Regions from separate parts of the Homo sapiens genome. Here region 2 is linked to region 1. Evidence: fine-mapped expression QTL. A gene starts in region 1. The other region holds a variant in brackets. All regions are shown on one strand. Distances are between the middles of the regions. Region 1 holds the start of NAA60 (N-alpha-acetyltransferase 60, NatF catalytic subunit). Region 2 overlaps C16orf90 (chromosome 16 open reading frame 90).

Region 1 (8,323 bases):
GAAACAAAGTTCTACAGTTTTCCCAACTCACTGACTAGAAAGGGCTGCAGTATAGTTCATGGGAATCCAAACAGTACCAAGTGGTTTTGCTGATTTGAGGGGACTGAGTTCAGAGATCAGGGATGCCAAGGCAGCTAGAATTTGAAAGCAAAACAGCAAAGAGGCAGCTGTTCAGAAAGAGAGCTCAGGTCATCTACATGGGGTCCCCTTAAGACTTTCCTGAGGCTAGGTACAGTGGCTCAAACCTGTAATCCCAGCACATTGGGAGGCTGAGGTGGGAGAATTGCTTGAGCCACGGAGCTCGAGACCAGCCTGGGCAACATGGCAAAGCCCCATCCCTACAAAAAAAAAACAACAAAAAAAGACAAGCATGGTAGTGCATGCCTGTAGTCCCAGCTACTTGGGAGGCTGAGGTGGGAGGACTGCTTGAGCCTGGGAGGTCAGGGCTGCAGTGAGCCGTGATTGTGCCACTGCACTCCAGCCTGGGTGACAGATCAAGATACTGTATCAAAAAAAAAATAACCCCACAACTTTGGCTGAGTAGTAATCTACAAGTGCATGAAGAAACTACCCAATGCCGTGGAAAGAACCACCTAAAAGGAATAACAGAGCAATAACCAGTTCATGTTGCCTCCAGCCAAAGTGGAAAGACATAAGACATTGAGCAGCAACGTCCACAGAAAAAAACTGCCTTAGCAGTAACTCAAATAAGTCCTAGCAGAAAGGTTGATCTGAACCTATCCTAACAAAGCAAAAAAAAAAAGCACACCTTGAAACAGTCAAACTGACTCCAAGTAACTTAACTGCCTCCCACAACAAAGTCCAAAATATTTTTAAAAATACAACGAAATCCCGGGTCCAACAACATAAAATTCTTAATCTAACATCCGACCAAAATTTACCCAGGAAGTAAAGAAAATATAGAAAATATAACCCATAACTAGAAGACAAATCAATCAATAGAAACAGACCCAGAAATGACATCAATGTTAAAACTAGCAAGAAAAAAAAGTTTAAATAACCATTATAAATATACTCCATACATTTACGCAGACAGAAGACAACATGAACATGATGAAGAGAGAAGTGGAAGAAACAAAATATGAGTTATTCAGAATAACTAGTTACTCTAGTTATTTTTTTCTGACTAGGATTGAGTATCTCAACTATTCCAAACTATTTAGAATAACTACTTAGAATAGATAGTTTAGATACTCAATCCTAGTCAGAAATAAAATCTAGTCAGGCACAGGAGTCCATCTGTGTATGGTTCCCCTTAGGTGAGTAAGGCATAGCACCCCTTAAGAGTAAATCAATCTCCAGTCTTTAGCAAATGATAGTGATCGATACTAATGGGATTTCCCAAGTAAAATTGTAAACTGCAACAAATGTTTGTGAAAGATTACCAAATACTGCCATCTCTTGTACTAAACCACAGGCACTGTACTAGACTGAATTTTTGTCTTTAAGAGATCATCTCGGCCGGGCTCAGTGGCTCATGCCTGTAATCCCAGCACTTTGGGAGGCCGAGGCGGGTGATCACAAGGTCAGGAGATTGAGACCATCCTGGCTAACACGGTGAAACCCTGTCTCTACTAAAAATACAAAAAATTAGCTGGGCATGGTGGCAGGCGGCTGTAGTCCCAGCTACTCGGGAGGCTGAGGCAGGAGAATGGCGTGAACCTGGGAGGCGCGGTTTGCAGTGAGCAGAGATCGTGCCACTGCACTCCAGCCTGGGCAACAGAGCGAGAGTCTGTCTCAAAAAAAAAAAATCATCTCATATTTTAAAACTTTTTCTCTCACACAATTATCACCTCCACATAAATTACTGAGGGACAGGTCCCACTCCACCATACCAACATCTGGATAAAGCATGAAGTTCTCCTCCTAGAATTGACAAAAGTTCCAGATGCAGGAAAAACAATTGCCTTACCCATCAAAGCCGCATCCTCCAAAGACTCTTTTGTACCATCTTTGCTGAGGGACCTCTGGGCAGGGTGCAGAGTCACGCACTCCTCTTGAGAAAAATACACAGCCAGATCCTCAAAGAGTATTGGTCCCTGAAACACAAGAGCCTGTGTCAGCACAAGAGGGTGGAGGGTCAGCCCCTCACTTAACCTAGGAAGGATGAAAAGAGCTAGAAACATCAGATGCACGGGATAAAAGGCTCGGTGTAAAAGGTTCTTGAGCGCAGAAGTAGGGCAAATGGGTTCTAAGGGGTGGGGTGAGGGTTGGGAAGAAGAGAGTAAACATGGACATACATTTTTAGGCAGTGGTACAAGGACGGTGGACTGTGAGAATTATTGTCTATCTTGAAAGAGAAAAGATGAGGGAATGGCTCTTAGGGAGGCAACCATTAAGTGAGGATGCTCTAAGAAAAGGAGAGGTTTGGGGCCGGGTGTGGTGGCTCATGCCTGTAATCCCAACACTTTGGGAGTCTGAGGGGGATGCAGATGACTTGAGGTCAGGTGTTCGAGACCAGCCTGGCCAATATGGTGAAACCCTGTCTCTACTAAAATTACAAAAATTAAGGCTGGGCACAGTGGCTCACGCCTGTAACCCCAGCACTTTGGAAGGTGGAGGCGAGTGGATCACCTGAGGTCAGGAGTTCAAGACCAGCCTGACCAACATGGTGAAATTCTGTCTGCACTAAATACAAAAAATTAGCCAGGTGTGGTGGCGCATGCCTATAATCCCAGCTACTTGGGAGGCTGAGGCAGGAGAATCATTTGAACCTAGGAGAAAGAGGTTGCAGTAAGCCGAGATTGCACCATTGCACTCCAGCCTGGGCAACAAGAGTAAAACTCCGTCTCAAGCAGAGCTTGCAGTGAGCTGAGATCGTGCCACTGCACTCCAGCCTGGGCAACAGAGCGACACTCCATCTCAAAAACAAAAACAAAAACAAAACAACAACAAAAAAAACTCTGTCTCAAAAAATAAATTAAAATAAAATGAAATTAGCCAGATGTGGTGGCATGCGCCTGTAGTCCCAGCTACTTGGGAGGCTGGGCCAGGAGAATCGTTTGAATCCAGGAGGCAGAGATTGCAGTGAGCCGAGATCGCGCCATTGCACTCCAGCCTAGGCGTCGCAGCGAGACTGTCTCAAAAAAAAAAAAAAAAAGAAAAGAAAAGGAGAAAGTTGGGCAGCCCAGGAAGAATCATAAAGAGATAAAGGTTACAGGATTCTCCCAACATCCTTCCCTTTGCTATTTCCTCTCGTCCCCATGACACTCATTGCTAAGCTCACTCCAGCACTTCATCCAGGCCTACCCCACCTTCTCTAACGGTGTGATAAATTAATCACTTGGGATTTATTATTACTCAACGAGTGTGGAGTCTAGAAATGTGCTTAATTTAAAAATTCATTCAAATTGGAGAAGTACCAAATCTGTAATTTTGGGAACCATTCCAGAAAGTCACTTTTAATCCTAGCACTTTGGGGAGCCGAGGTGGGAGGATAGCTGAAGGCCAGGAGTTCCTTGGCAAAGCAGCAAGACTCCATCTCCATAAAGAAGTTTTAGGCCGGGCGCAGTGGCTCACACCTGTAATTCCAGCACTTTGGGAGACCGAGGCGGGCGGATCACAAGGTCAGGAGATTGAGACCATCCTGGCTAACACGGTGAAACCCCGTCTCTACTAAAAATACAAAAAATTAGCAGGGCGTGGCGGCAGGCGCCTGTAGTCCCATCTACTCGGGAGGCTGAGGCAGGAGAATGGCATGAACCCGGGAGGCGGAGCTTGCAGTGAGCCGAGATCGCGCCACTGCACTCCAGCCTGGGCGACAGAGCGAGACTCTGTATCAAAAAAAAAAAAAAAAGAACTTTTAAAAGTAGCCAGACACTGTGGTATGCGCGCCTCTCAGATACTCGAGAGGCTGAGGCGTAAGGATTCCCTGAGTTCCAGACGGAGCTATGATATCAGCACTGCACTCCAGCCAGACAAGCAACACTCCAGCGACAAGGCCAGACCCTATCTCCAAACAAAACAAAACAAACAGATAAGACATTGAGAAACTCTCTCAGAGATTCCTCCACAGGTCCCTGCTCCCAGTTGGTAGTTCTGAAAGAAGGAAGTTGGTAAACCATTATGTGTGTGGTCTTGGAACGAAGAACACTTGGTCAAAGGGCTATTTGGGGCTCAGGAGCACTCCTACCACAACAGGCATGCCCAACTCTCCTCCAAAGGAGGGGGTCAGGCAGAGACCGAAAGCAGCAATAAACTTGGACGAAAAAGGTACCTCGACTCACCTGGGCCTCGGGCGTCGGGGGCATGGACGCCATTTGGCGGGTGGGGAATGCCTTCTTCAAGACGCCACAGGGACTTCGTGACAAAGCTGCGGGGGGAGAGAACAGTTCTTAAAGGGACCAATTCCGCTGCCAAGTTCCTCCACTACCCCTAGCCTCCCTCGATTCCCTCCGAACCCCCCCTTAAAAACCTACGCCGACTGCTCCTCCTCTTGGCCCGGCCTCGAAAGGGGCCCACTTACCGCTCCGCGGTTAATAACAGGCCTCGCGCTCCCTGACAGGAGCTGCAGAAAGCGACGCCCGACCGAGACGCGACGAAGAACGCCACGGCCACTGCAAAACTCCCACGCTCTCATGCTCCTTTACGCAGGAGCTGCGGGAAAAGCCGCCGGAAGCGACCCGCCCTCAGCCCTCTCCGCCATCCTGCCCTTTGATTGGTCGAAGTTCTCCCGAAGGGGAAGTCCTTCTTTTGTGTTGACCAATTGAACACCTTAACCGAGGACCTGTAGCCACTGGGCAGCTGCGAGAGGTAGTTTTCCTCCTTTTCTCTAAGCAACCATTTCCGCTTCCGCTGGCGGGGTCTCCTCCGTGAGCTCCGGGCCTGTTTGCCTGCTGAAGTAGAGTCTTAGGGTGACCCCAGGGGGACGTAATGTTTCCGAGAAGAAGGACAGAAAGAAGACTGGGAGACACCGGAACTCGAAAGAAAATCGGTAACAAAATGTGGGTTCGGCCAACAGTGCCCTGTAGGCCTGAAATTTCGGTCTGGCCAGAGCAAGGTGATTGAGAGGGCGGGGGTTCGGGCCTAGCCTGGGCTTGAGCTGTCCTTTGTGTCTTGAGCGGATGGTGGGGCCGTGGAACATGAAGGAGTATCTTTGTGTACGTTCACAACGTTCACATCGGTGTAGGCCAGGTTGCTGGACTCTGACTCAAAGTGTTATAGAGGCATTACGTATTGTACCCGCAGCTGCAGCCTAAGCGAGCTGCTTCAGCTTCCTAGTCACAGGATCCCACGCGAGAATAGAGCCATAGGTTAGCGTCGCAGGACGTTGTTCGCCCCCGGATACCTCACATGCAGCCTACCCTAGAGCCAGTCATTTCCTATTGTGTGCTGGGGGAGGAGGGAGTGCCCTGGTGTAGGCATTTGGAATTGGAAAATTGAGCTCCTCCCCAAGCTCTGCCACTGATTGGTTGGTAATCTTGGCCAGTTTACAACTTTGCTTTCCTCAGCTGCAAACAGCTCAGAGTGCCTCTCTGGGCTAACTCAGAGGGTAATTTCAAAGATTATAAGATAATGTAAGTGAAAGAAATTGCCAGTTTATAAAGGTGTTTGGGGAAAAAAAAAGACGAAAATGATAGGTACCTTGATAGAAAAGCCTGAAAAGTCTCAACATATTTCCTTATTCCAGTGCCAGGCACATTCCTGTATCTAAAAGCTTAATGAATGGCTGCATGGTTATTAAAACAATATTAGGAGATTTGACAACTTAGGTAATGTGATTTTGTGGAATATCTGATAGGATAGTTTCAGCTACAAGTAACAGAAAACCCACCGAAAGGATGTTCAAAGAGCAGTTACAGGTTGGTTAATTCGGTGGCCCAGTGACAACATCAAGGTCCCAGTGCTTCTCTGCCACCCTAAGCATGTTGGTAACGTTGACAATAGAATCCAGGTAAAATATACAGACATGTATTGTGTCATGTACCCATCCTAAACTAGTTATTACCAAGAATAAATAATTGTTTGGGGCCCATCATGCTTCAGCCCCTGTCACTAGGGGAAGGACCTAGCCTCCCTTGATAATCTACCTGCACAAAATTAGGGCTTTGTTACAAATGAAAAAAAGAGATGTGGAAAATAAGTTAGATAAGAAACTAGCAGTATCTGCCACAAATGATATCTCTTGACAGCTAACTAAGAGCTAGACCTTGTGGGGATGGATCACAAAAGAGGTAGCTGTGAAGTCCCAGTAAAGGTGCTTCCAGGACAGGTGGAAGAATGGTAAGAACAAACTTGCCTACAGGCTAGACCAGTCCAAAGCATATATGTTGAAGAAGAGCTAATAGCCTGTATATGAAGGTGTAAGTAAAGGAGATGTTCATGGTTGAGTCACTGTGGTGTTCACGTAGTCATCTTTCCCTTCTTGGTTTGTGCTTATCTCTTTTTTTTTTTTTTTTTTGAGACAGTCTCACTCTGTAGCCAGACTGGGGTGCAGTGGCACAATCCTGACTCACTGCAACCTCTGCCTCCGGGGTTCAAATGATTCTCCTGCCTAAGCCTCCTGAGTAGCTGGGACTACAGGTGCCCGCCACCACGTCCGGCTAATTTTTTTTTTTTGTATTTTTAGTAGAGATGGGGTTTCATCATGTTGGCCAGGATGGTCTCGATCTCGTGACCTCATGATCCACCTCGGCTTCCCAAAGTGCTGGGATTACAAGCGTGAGCCACCGCGCCCCGCCTATTTAATGCTATTCTTACATCAGCACTGTCTCATTGTGGTCTGAGATTCTCCTTATCTGGATTTGTGGCTCTTTCACCAAGAACAAGAGACTCCCGTGGCTCTCTTCTTTAAATCCTGTTGCCATAATTACAAAGAAATAAACACAGTTTCCAATGCTTTGAAATGAAGCATGTGGTATTAACTCAGTGGATTACCAGAGAGAGAGGGATATACCTGAAATGGGAGAGGAAAAAATCTTCCCTAGACTATCTTTCCTAAGAGCCATCAAAACTATAAACAAGTGGACAAAGAAGGAGGAAGCTTGAAAGCTTTATCTTCCTGAAAATAAAGAGATGACATACAAAGTCCAAGATAGACCAAGATTGAAAAATTAGACCACATTATATCCCTAACTCAATTTTGTAAAAAATCACAAATGCTTGACTGTATACCCACTATATGTTCAAGTAACATGTTTTAATCATCAAAATTTAAAAATCCTTCCACGACAATCTTTTGCAAGTTTTTCCATTTCTGTCTTTAACATGGTACCAGTAATAACAACTACAACCTGTTTGTATTGAAATTATTTCTATAGCCCAGCATCTGCTTTCTCTGAAAATTATCTTTTTAAAAATAGTAAAACTAACATCATTACAAAAGTAGTATATGTGCATTTCAGAAAGTTAGGAAAGGCTGGGTGCGGTGGCTCACGCCTGTAATCCCAGCATTTTGTGAGGCTGAGGTGGGCAGATCACAAGGTCAGGAGATCGAGACCATCCTGGCTAACACGATGAAACCCCATCTATACTAAAAATACAAAAAATTAGCCAGGCGTGGTAGCGGGCACCTGTAGTCCCAGCTACTCGGGAGGCTGAGGCAGGAGAATGGCGTGAACCTGGGAGGCGGAGCTTGCAGTGAGCCGAGATCACACCACTGCACTCCAGCCTGGGTGACAGAGTGAGACTCTGTCTGAAAAAAAAAAAAAAAAGAAAATACAGGGGAAAAAATGGCAACACATTCCTGTCACCCAGAGATCACCACTATTTACTCTTTATTATTTGTTTTTTTTTTTTTGAGACAGTCTCACTGTTGCCCAGGCTGGAGAGCAGTGGTGCGATCTCTGCTCACTGCAACTTCCGCCTCCTGGGTTCAAGTGATTCTTGTGCCTCAGCTACCAGAGTAGATGAGATGATGGGCAGATGCCACCACAACCATTTAATTTTTGTATTTTTAGTAGAGATGCAGTTTTGCCATGTTGGCCAGGCTGGTCTCAAACTCCTGGCCTCAAGTGATCCGCCCATGTCAGCCTCCCAAAGTGCTGGGATTACAGGTATGAGCCACCGCACCTGGCCTGCTCACTGCAACCTCCATCTCCCAGGTTCAAGCAATTCTTCTGGCTCAGCCTCCCGAGTAGCTGGGACTATAGGTGCGTACCACCACACCTGGCGAATTTTTGTATTTTTAGTAGAGGACGGGTTTTCCCCATATTGGCCAGGCTGGTCTCGAACTCCTGACCTTGTGATCTGCCCGCCTTGGCCTCCCAAAGTGCTGGGATTACAGGCGTGAGCCCCTGCCCCCGGCCCCTATTCTTAAGTATATATCTTTTCCCTAGTGATTTTTATGATGATGCAGCTGTAT
Region 2 (8,323 bases), 48 kb after region 1:
GTCACATCCTGTTTCCCGCACCCGCCTGGCTGCACCTCGGGCCTCACCCTGTAGCTGAAGTTGGCCTCGAGCTACTTGTCACTGGCAAGGCCCAAGGATGGCTTCCAGATAAAGGGGACAGTGGTTTTGTGTGATTAACCCTGTCAGAGAATGAGGACCTTTGGCCAGGCACGGTGGCTCACGCCTGTAATTCTAGCACTTTGGGAGGCCGAAGTGGGCGGATCACGAGGTCAGATCGAGACCAGCCTGGCCAACATGGTGAAACCTCATCTCTACTAAAATACAAAAATTAGCCGGGCGTGGTGGTGTGCACGTGTAGCCCCAGCTACTCGGGAGCCTGAGGCAGGAGAGCTTGAACCCAGGAGGCGGAGGTTACAGTGAGCTGAGATGGCGCCATTGCACTCCAGCCTGGTGACAGAGCGAGACTCCAGAAAAAGAATGTGAAACTGGGGAAGAGGTTCTAGAGTTGAGAAGCACATTAGGTCCTTTTTTCACTGGAAGGTCCCCAGCAGCTGCCCTGTCTGGGCATCTCCCTGGCTGTAGGCCTTGAGCTGGGGCCCAGTCCAGGCAGGCGGCTCCAAGGGTGATTTGGTGCACCCTGCTGTGGAGCCTGAGGTGCGTGCCCACCCAGCACAGACCTGGTGCTTCCGTCAGCCTCTCATGGAAACTTCTGGTCACCCTCAAGGGATGATATTGTTCCTCTTAGAGATGAGGAGAACTGGCTCGGGGGCTGGGAGTTACCAAGGAGCCACAGTTTGTGAGTGTTGGGCCCAGGCCTGGGCCACTCTGAAGCCTGCGTGGCTGCTCTGTTACACCATTCCTGTGCCTTTGACCTCATCCAGTGGCCGGGAGACATGCAACTTGCCGAGGGTCCTCCCAGGAGAGGGTCTGAAGCATCTGCAAGATGGAGTAGGGGTGGACGCTGGTGCCCTGGGAGGCCAGGCAGCTGGGCGCGCTGGACCCATGTCCAAAGCCATGGGGTGAGTGAAACCAGATTAACCCGCTGAGCTTGCCCACGGGAGCGTCTGCTGGGGAGACACAGTCTTGGTTACTCCAGCAAGGACAGTTGCACCTTTGCTGATGAGTCAGCTTGCGGTTAAGAGGGTAACTCTTTGGGGCCCTTGGTCAATCGTGTGACCAGTTAGTAACTTGCCCAGGTGGGGCTGCGGCTCCTCAGGCCCTGCTTCAGTGAGGCCAGGCAGGACTGCCACTGCTCCAGGCCTCTCACCATAGCCCCACCGGACCGCAGAGCTGGGACACAAACGCTCGTGCTCCACTGGGGGGCAGAAAGGGAGTGTGGGACCCAGGGAGAGGTAGGACACACACAGGATGCACCTGGACATAGCACGGAGGCCAGCCCTGAACGGAGCTGGCTCTGCCCCAGGCCTGCTCAGGGGTGGAGCCCGAGGCAGCCTTGGGTCTCCCCGCTCCCTGCACACACCACCCAAGGATCTCCTATAGGGTAGGGGTCCTTCATACTTTCAGGACGGAGACAGACTCCTGGTCTTCCATTCCTAGCCCACCGGCGTTCAGGGACTCACGGGGTAAGGGGCGTGCCCAGGGATGGTCAGTGTATTTTCTTTTTTTTTTTTTTTTTTGAGATGGAATCTCATTCTGTTTGCACTCCAGCCTGGGTAACAGAGTGAGATCTTGGCTCACTGCCAGCTTGGCCTCCCGGGTTCACGCCATTCTCCTGTCTCAGCCTCCCGAGTAGCTGGTACAACAGGCGCCTGCCACCATGCCCGGCTATTTTTTTGTATTTTTAGTAGAGACGGGGTTTCACCATGTTAGCCAGGATGGTCTCGATCTCCTGACCGCGTGATCCGCCCGCCTCGGCCTCCCAAAGTGCTGGGATTACAGGCATGAGCCACCGCGTCCGGCTGAGGTCAATGTGTATTTTCATGAGCGTCCGCTTGCTCAGGCCAAGTGCTGCTTTCTCCACATCGACTCCCACCCCAGCGTGCCATGATTGTGGCTTTTTTGCCTCTCAGTCTGTTGGAGTGCTTCTCAAAAAGGCTTTGGGAGGTTTTGCGGGAGGGACTGTCTAGAGGCCAATTTAGGGCCAGTTTTCTTTGGGGCCAGCATGTGGCTGCAGCAGATGTCCTCTCGGGTAAGATCCTGGCTACAGCTGTCTGTGGCTGAGTTACAGACTGTCTTTTTTTTTTTTTTTTTTTTTTTTTTTTTTTTTGAAACGGAACCTGCTCTCTCCCCCAAACTGGCGTCCAGTGGCGTGATCTCGGCTCACTGCAAGCTCCGCCTCCCGGGTTCACACCATTCTCCCGCCTCAGCCTCTGGAGTAGCTGGGACTACAGGGGCCCGCCACCATGCCTGGCTAATTTTTTTTGTATTTTTAGTAGAGATGGGGTTTCACCGTGTTAGCCAGGATGGTCTCGATCTCCTGACCTCGTGATCTGCCCACCTCGGCCTCCCAAAGTGCTGGGATTACAGGCATGAGCCACCGTGCCTGCCGGAGTAACAGACTGTCTTAAAGCTTCACAGCCTAAGCAGGGGCCATTCTGTTTGCTTCCAATTCCAGCTGGGACAGGAGTCAGCAGGGACTCCATGTGGTATTAGCCAGGCAGGCTGGCGGGGCTGGAGGACCTGTGTGAAAGATGGCCCTACCCACAGGGCTGCCCACAGTGAGCTCAGCAGTGGCCATGGGCTTGGCTCCTTCCTTCCATGGCTTCCTCAGGCTAGGCTGGTTTTGCACCATACCACAGTCCCAGGGTAGACTCCTTACGGGGCCACTGACCTCCTGGGAAGCTGCCAGGCTTCCTTACTGCCCAGAAGTGACACCCCGCCACTTCTGCCACATTCTACTGGTAAAGCAGGATCTGGAGCCTGTCCCAATTCAAGGGGAGGGGGCTACACAGGGGCCAGAACACGAAGACACGTGGCTCATCCGGGGTAGCAGAAGGGCCACTGACCATAGCCTGGGACCCCCCCCCCCACCCACCCAAAATCTGGAGCCTGGGGCAACCTGTGCTCCTCTCTGAGCCTCCACTCTTTGTTCAGAAGTGAGTGGAGTCCAGGTGCGGTGGCTGATGCCTGTAATCCCAGTACTTCAGGAGGCCAAGGTGGGAGGATCTCTTAAGCTCAGGGGTTCAAGACCAGCCTGGGAAACATAGTGAGACCCTCATCTCTTAAAAAAATAGAAAATCGGCCAGGCGCGGTGGCTCACACTGGTAATCCCAACACTTTGGGAGGCCGAGGAGGGCAGATCACGAGGTCAGGAGATCGAGACCATTCTGCCTAACACGGTGAAACCCCATCTCTATTAAAAATACAAAAAATTAGCCGGGCGTGGTGGCGGGCGCCTGTAGTCCCAGCTACTCAGGAGGCTGAGGCAGGACAATGGTGAACCCAGGAGGCGGAGGTTGCAGTGAGCCGAGATCATGCCACTGCACTCCTGCCTGGGCGACAGAGCAAGACTCCGTCTCAAAAAAAAAAAAAAAAAAAAAAAAAAAAAAAAAAAGCTGGGCATGGTGGTGGCCCACGCCTGTAGTCTCTGCTACTCAGGAGGCTGAGATGGTAGGGTCACTTGGCTCAGGAGCTCAAGGCTGCAGTGAGCTATGATTGTTAAACATAGGGCCCAGCGTGGAGCCTCACCTATAATCCCAGCACTTTAGGAGGTGGAGGCGGGAGCATTGCTTGAGGCTGGGAGTTGGAGACCAGGGGCAACATAGCAAGACCCTTTCTCTACCAAAAAAAAGTTTGTAATTAGCTGGACATGGTGGCAACTGCCTTTGGTTCCAGCTACTCAGGAGGCTGAGGCAGGAAGATCACTTGAGGCCAGGAGTTCAAGGCTGCAGTGAGTTAAGATCATGCTACTGCACTCCAGGCTGGGAGACAGTGAGACACTGTCTCAAAAAAAAGAAAAGGGGAAAAAAAGTGGATTAGGCCCCTAACGGTCTCCAAGCTCCAAGGACTTTGTATTGCTGGCCTCTGTGCGGCCTCAGTTATGCCCAGCGTCCGCAGCTGGTGGCTGGTGCAGGCGTCCTTCC[A/C]TGTTTACTCAGCAGCCTCCCTAATGTCAGTCTTTAAGTGGTCTCTTGGATCCACCTGGCCTCTGCGTCTCTGGGGAATGAGTGTTGTGGGAGAGAGAGAAGGCAGCTGCCCCTCCGCCACCCCATGTGACTCATCAGTGGACCTCAGGCCCGCTGCATCCCACCCACACCTGCCCCATCACAGCTGCTCTTGGGTGCAGCATGTAAACACCTGCTCTCTCAGAGCTCCCCCTCCTGGGGACCGCTACAGCCTTGGGTGTCCCCCACCCCGGGCCATGCCTGCATACTTAGAACAACCCATAAAACCACCCAAGGACTGAAGTCTCCAGGATCTGCTGTCCCAGGGACACAAGAACTGTCCAGGGTGGGTACAGGAGAAGGGAAGGAGCCTGGCTGTCCTGGGCACGTCACATGCGACCTGGCAGGAGCCCAAAGCAGGGGTGGCGCTGAGCCCTAGCCTGACCCGGGCTGCACCGGCTGGAGTGACCAGACGGGAAGGTCACTGAGGCAAACCCAGGTGCTCCCGTCTTCTTCCCATAGGATGGAGACCTGGTGGAATAGAACAAGTGTGTTAGTCCGTCTTGACACTGCTTCCTGAGACTGGGTTATTTATAAACAAAAGAGGTTTAATTGATTCAGCGTTCCAGGTGTCTGGGAGGCCTCAGGAAACTTACAATCACCATGGAAGGCAAAGGGGAAGCAGGCACCTTCTTGGCAAGGCGGCAGGACAGAGAGAGAGAGAGGCGGTGGTGGGGAGGAAGGGTGGAACTGCCAAACACATTTTATTATTTTTTTCTTTTTTTGAGACAAGAGTCTCACTCTATCACCCAGGCTGGAGTGCAGTGGCACAATCTCGGCTCACTGCAAGCTCTGCCTCCCGGGTTCATGCCATTCTCCTGCCTCAGCCTCCTGAGTAGCTGGGACTACAGGCAGCTGCCACCATGCCCGGCTAATTTTTGTATTTTTAGTACAGACAGTGTTTCACCGTGTTAGCCAGGATGGTCTTGATCTCCTGACCTTGTGATCCGCCCGCCTCAGCCTCCCAAAGTGTTGGCATTACAGGCGTGAGCCACTGCACCTGGCCCACCGCCAAACACTTTTAAACCATCAGATCTTGTGATAACTCACTATCATGAGAGCAGCATGGCGGAACCCCCCACCCCCCACCCCATGATCCAATCACCTCCCATGAGAACCCTCCCTCAACACATGGGGATTACAATTGGAGATGAAATTTGGGTGGGGACACAGCCTAACTGTATCAGCAGGCTTCTCATCCACAGTAACAGTGCTCCCGAGGGACACCGGACAATGTCTGGAGACACTTGCTGTCACAGCTTAGAGGAGGGTGCTACAGATACCAAGTGGGTGGTGGCCAGAGATGCTGCTTAACATCCTACATGCACAGGACAGCCTCCATCCCAAAGAAAGATCCCATCCCAAACATCAACAGAGTCGAGTGGAGACACCCCGGCACAGAGGAAGCCCACACCTGGGTGCGCAGAGTCTGGTCCGGCTGGGAGGAGAAGGGCTGTGCTCATCCTGCCCAGAGGGACCTGGGAGCTGGGGTCCCGCGGAGCAGTGACCTCACCTGGTAGGGGGCAGGTGGGGCCGAGGTCCACATCCCTGCCTCTGCTGCTGTCCTCCCTGGTGCCCTCCCTGACCCCGCCCTGCCTTCCTTCATCCGCTGCGCCCTCCACCCACAATGCCATGGCCTGCATTTAGGATCCTCCTGAGGCAGGAGGATCACTTGAGCTCAGGAGTTTGAGACCAGCCTGGGCAACAGCAGGACCCCCTCCCCCCAACTCTTAAAACAACAGAAAATTAGGCCGGGCACGGCGGCTCACGCCTGTAATCCCAGCACTTTGGGAGGCTGAGGTCAGGAGATGGAGATCATCTTGGCTAACACGGTGAAACCCCGTCTCTACTAAAAAAATACAAATAAATTAGCCGGGCGCGGTGGCGGGCGCCTATAGTCCCAGCTACTCGGGAGGCTGAGGCAGGAGAATGGCGTGAACCTGGGAGTTGGAGCTTGAAGTGAGCCGAGATTGCACCACTGCACTCCAGCCTGGGCCACAGAGCAAGACTCCGTCTCAAAAAAAAAAAAAAAAAAAAGACAGTCTGTAACTCAGCCACAGACAGCCGTAGCCAGGATCTCACCCCTGAGAAGGACATCTGCTGCAGCCACATGCTGGCCCCAAAGAAAACTGGCTCTAAATTGGCCTCTAGACAGTTCTAGACTGCATCTCAAAAAAAAAAAGAAAAGAAAATTAGCCAGGCATGGTGGCTGAAAAGGTGGGCTGTTGAGCCCCTACCCACCCTATGGAGCCAAGCTCAGCAGTGTCTCATCCAGGAAGCTCTCACAGACAAGTATGGTGTTCCCACAGGCCCTTGCCCTAGCTCACGCCTCTCATGCCCTGGCAACTAAGAGTGGGGGCGCGGCAGACCCATCCCTGGAGAGACACAGGACTGTTTTTCTCACCAAACTGGCCTGATGACAGACAGGCAGATGGACAAGAACGTGCAGGCCTTGGCTTTTATTGAGATCAGAGCTGTGGGCTCCCCGGCCTCTCAGGGAGGCGGTGGCGGGGGGGCCTGATTCTGCACTCAGCCCGGCCTCCCAGGTACAAGTGGCTGACTGGAGTCTAAGCAGGCTGCAAGGGCACGGCCATGCTTCTATTGCTTCTGCCCCTCCCTCGGAACCTCCTCCTCCTCCCTCTCCCCATCACATTCTCCCGAGGCCCAGGCCTGGGCGCTGGGCCGCTGCCTGGGCCACCCCATGTGGCAGGGCCACTGCCGGGGGCCGAGCCCCTCCTGCTCAGGCTGCCTCCTCGGCCATCCTGCCCCTCCTGTACCCAGTCCTGGCACTCGGGATCCCTATGGCCTCTCCAGGGCCCCAGAGCGGGTTCTCTTGCACAAGGGACACATGGCCTCTTCCCAGGTCCCCCAGGACCTCTTGGGCCTGAGCCTAGAAGGACTAGGCTGGGGGAGGGCACCCTTGTCTGGGTCCATGCTGGAACTGGAAGCTGAGGAAAGAGGAGAGAAAGGAGTCACTTGAGGGACCCAAGGGGAGGCTGGGGGGGAGGCTGGCAGCCCACCCTGGGGTTTCCAGAATCCGATATTCTTGAAAACAGAAGGGAGGAGGGCAATGCTTCCTCCTTAACAGAATCCCCAGGGGAGGGAGGAGGTTGAGGGAACAGAATGGTTCAAGCTGGAAGGACCCTCATCTAACCTGAACCCTCATTTTACAAGTGAGAAAACTGAGGCCCAGCAAGGGAGACAGATTCCAAGGCCCCTCACCGAGTGTGGAGCTGGGGCAGTCACCCAGCCCTCCCTCCCAGATCCTCCCTTTTTCTCGCACCGCTTTGTCCCTGGTGGATTCTCCAGACCCCGCTTAGCTGTGCGTGATGCAGAGATGGGGACAGATTCATCAAGATCTTGGCCTTCTGGGGCATGGTGCCACTGTGGAGGCTTGGGAGTGGAGAAGGGCCCGCCTGAGGCCCCAGCCCAACCATCCCCTAGGGTCTTCCCCCGTGCCCAGTCCTGCCTTGACAGAGCTCACCACTGCTTCCCAGGCTGTCCCTGGGCAATCGGGCTTCCAGAAGGGCTGAACAGAGGCTGTTACGTGGGCCCAGAGTCCCCTGTGGCAGGTCCAGGGCCCAGGCTGTGCCCTCAGGCTGTGGCAGGCAGCCCCCAGCCATAAGCCGGCCCAGCCAGTGGCTCTCACACTGGCCAGTGGGTGGCGGGTGGCTCTCCAGGTAGAGGCCCAGGCCCCGGAGGTGGCGCAGCCGGAAGTTCTTGGGCTTGCTTCCCTGGGCACTGGGGCACTGCGGCTGCGGGGACCCCAGGCCCCCCTCGTAGATGTTGGGGGGTGCGTCAGGGTGGCCGGGGCGTCCTTGGGCCTGGCTCACTGCATCTGCAGAGGAGACAGCGGGAGGGTGGTGGCCAGCCCCCCACAGCAGCCATGAGGGGAGGGTGCAGTCACATACCTCTGAGACCAGCTCACATGATGGGCTACACCCCCAGCCAACCTGGCCTCAGTTTACCTGTGTGTCAAATAGTCTCAGTCCACTGCCTCCCCTGCCCATGCCCAAGACACGACTCCTCTTCCCACTCCCAACCAACAGGGAGGCCTGGGAAGCCTCGGGCCTTGGTACTAAGAGTGCTTTCAGGACCTCAAGTCCTTTCTACTACCCTGTTCTGCCCGCTACCCTAGGAAGAGTATTCTGGTCCCCACAGAGAAATTGCACAGTGGGTTTGAGAGAAAGTGGCCAGCCCAGGGGCTCATGGCCTGGCCCAGTGGCCATTCCCCTCTCCCA

What was found.
Region 2: its variant is fine-mapped to the expression of NAA60 in lung (TOPMed, PIP above 0.99).

What each region holds. Positions count from the first base shown.
Region 1 is chr16:3,438,874-3,447,196 of GRCh38, forward strand. NAA60 (N-alpha-acetyltransferase 60, NatF catalytic subunit) reads left to right here and starts at 4,807. Exons shown (of 8, transcript NM_001083601.3): 1 at 4,807-4,964. ZNF597 (zinc finger protein 597) reads right to left here and starts at 4,631. Exons shown (of 4, transcript NM_152457.3): 1 at 4,487-4,631; 2 at 4,248-4,333; 3 at 1,934-2,060. The coding sequence starts at 4,280. RefSeq lists an enhancer at 4,891-5,040.
Region 2 is chr16:3,486,958-3,495,280 of GRCh38, forward strand. It overlaps C16orf90 (chromosome 16 open reading frame 90), which reads right to left. Exons shown (of 3, transcript NM_001080524.2): 2 at 7,567-7,920; 3 at 6,527-7,030. The coding sequence ends at 6,882. It also overlaps a transcript of NAA60 not described here. Among named protein-coding and RNA genes, the nearest start is that of C16orf90, 4.4 kb to the right of the region's middle. RefSeq lists an enhancer at 1,132-1,426 and a silencer at 6,091-6,300. The variant A/C (reference allele first, on the strand shown) is at 4,005.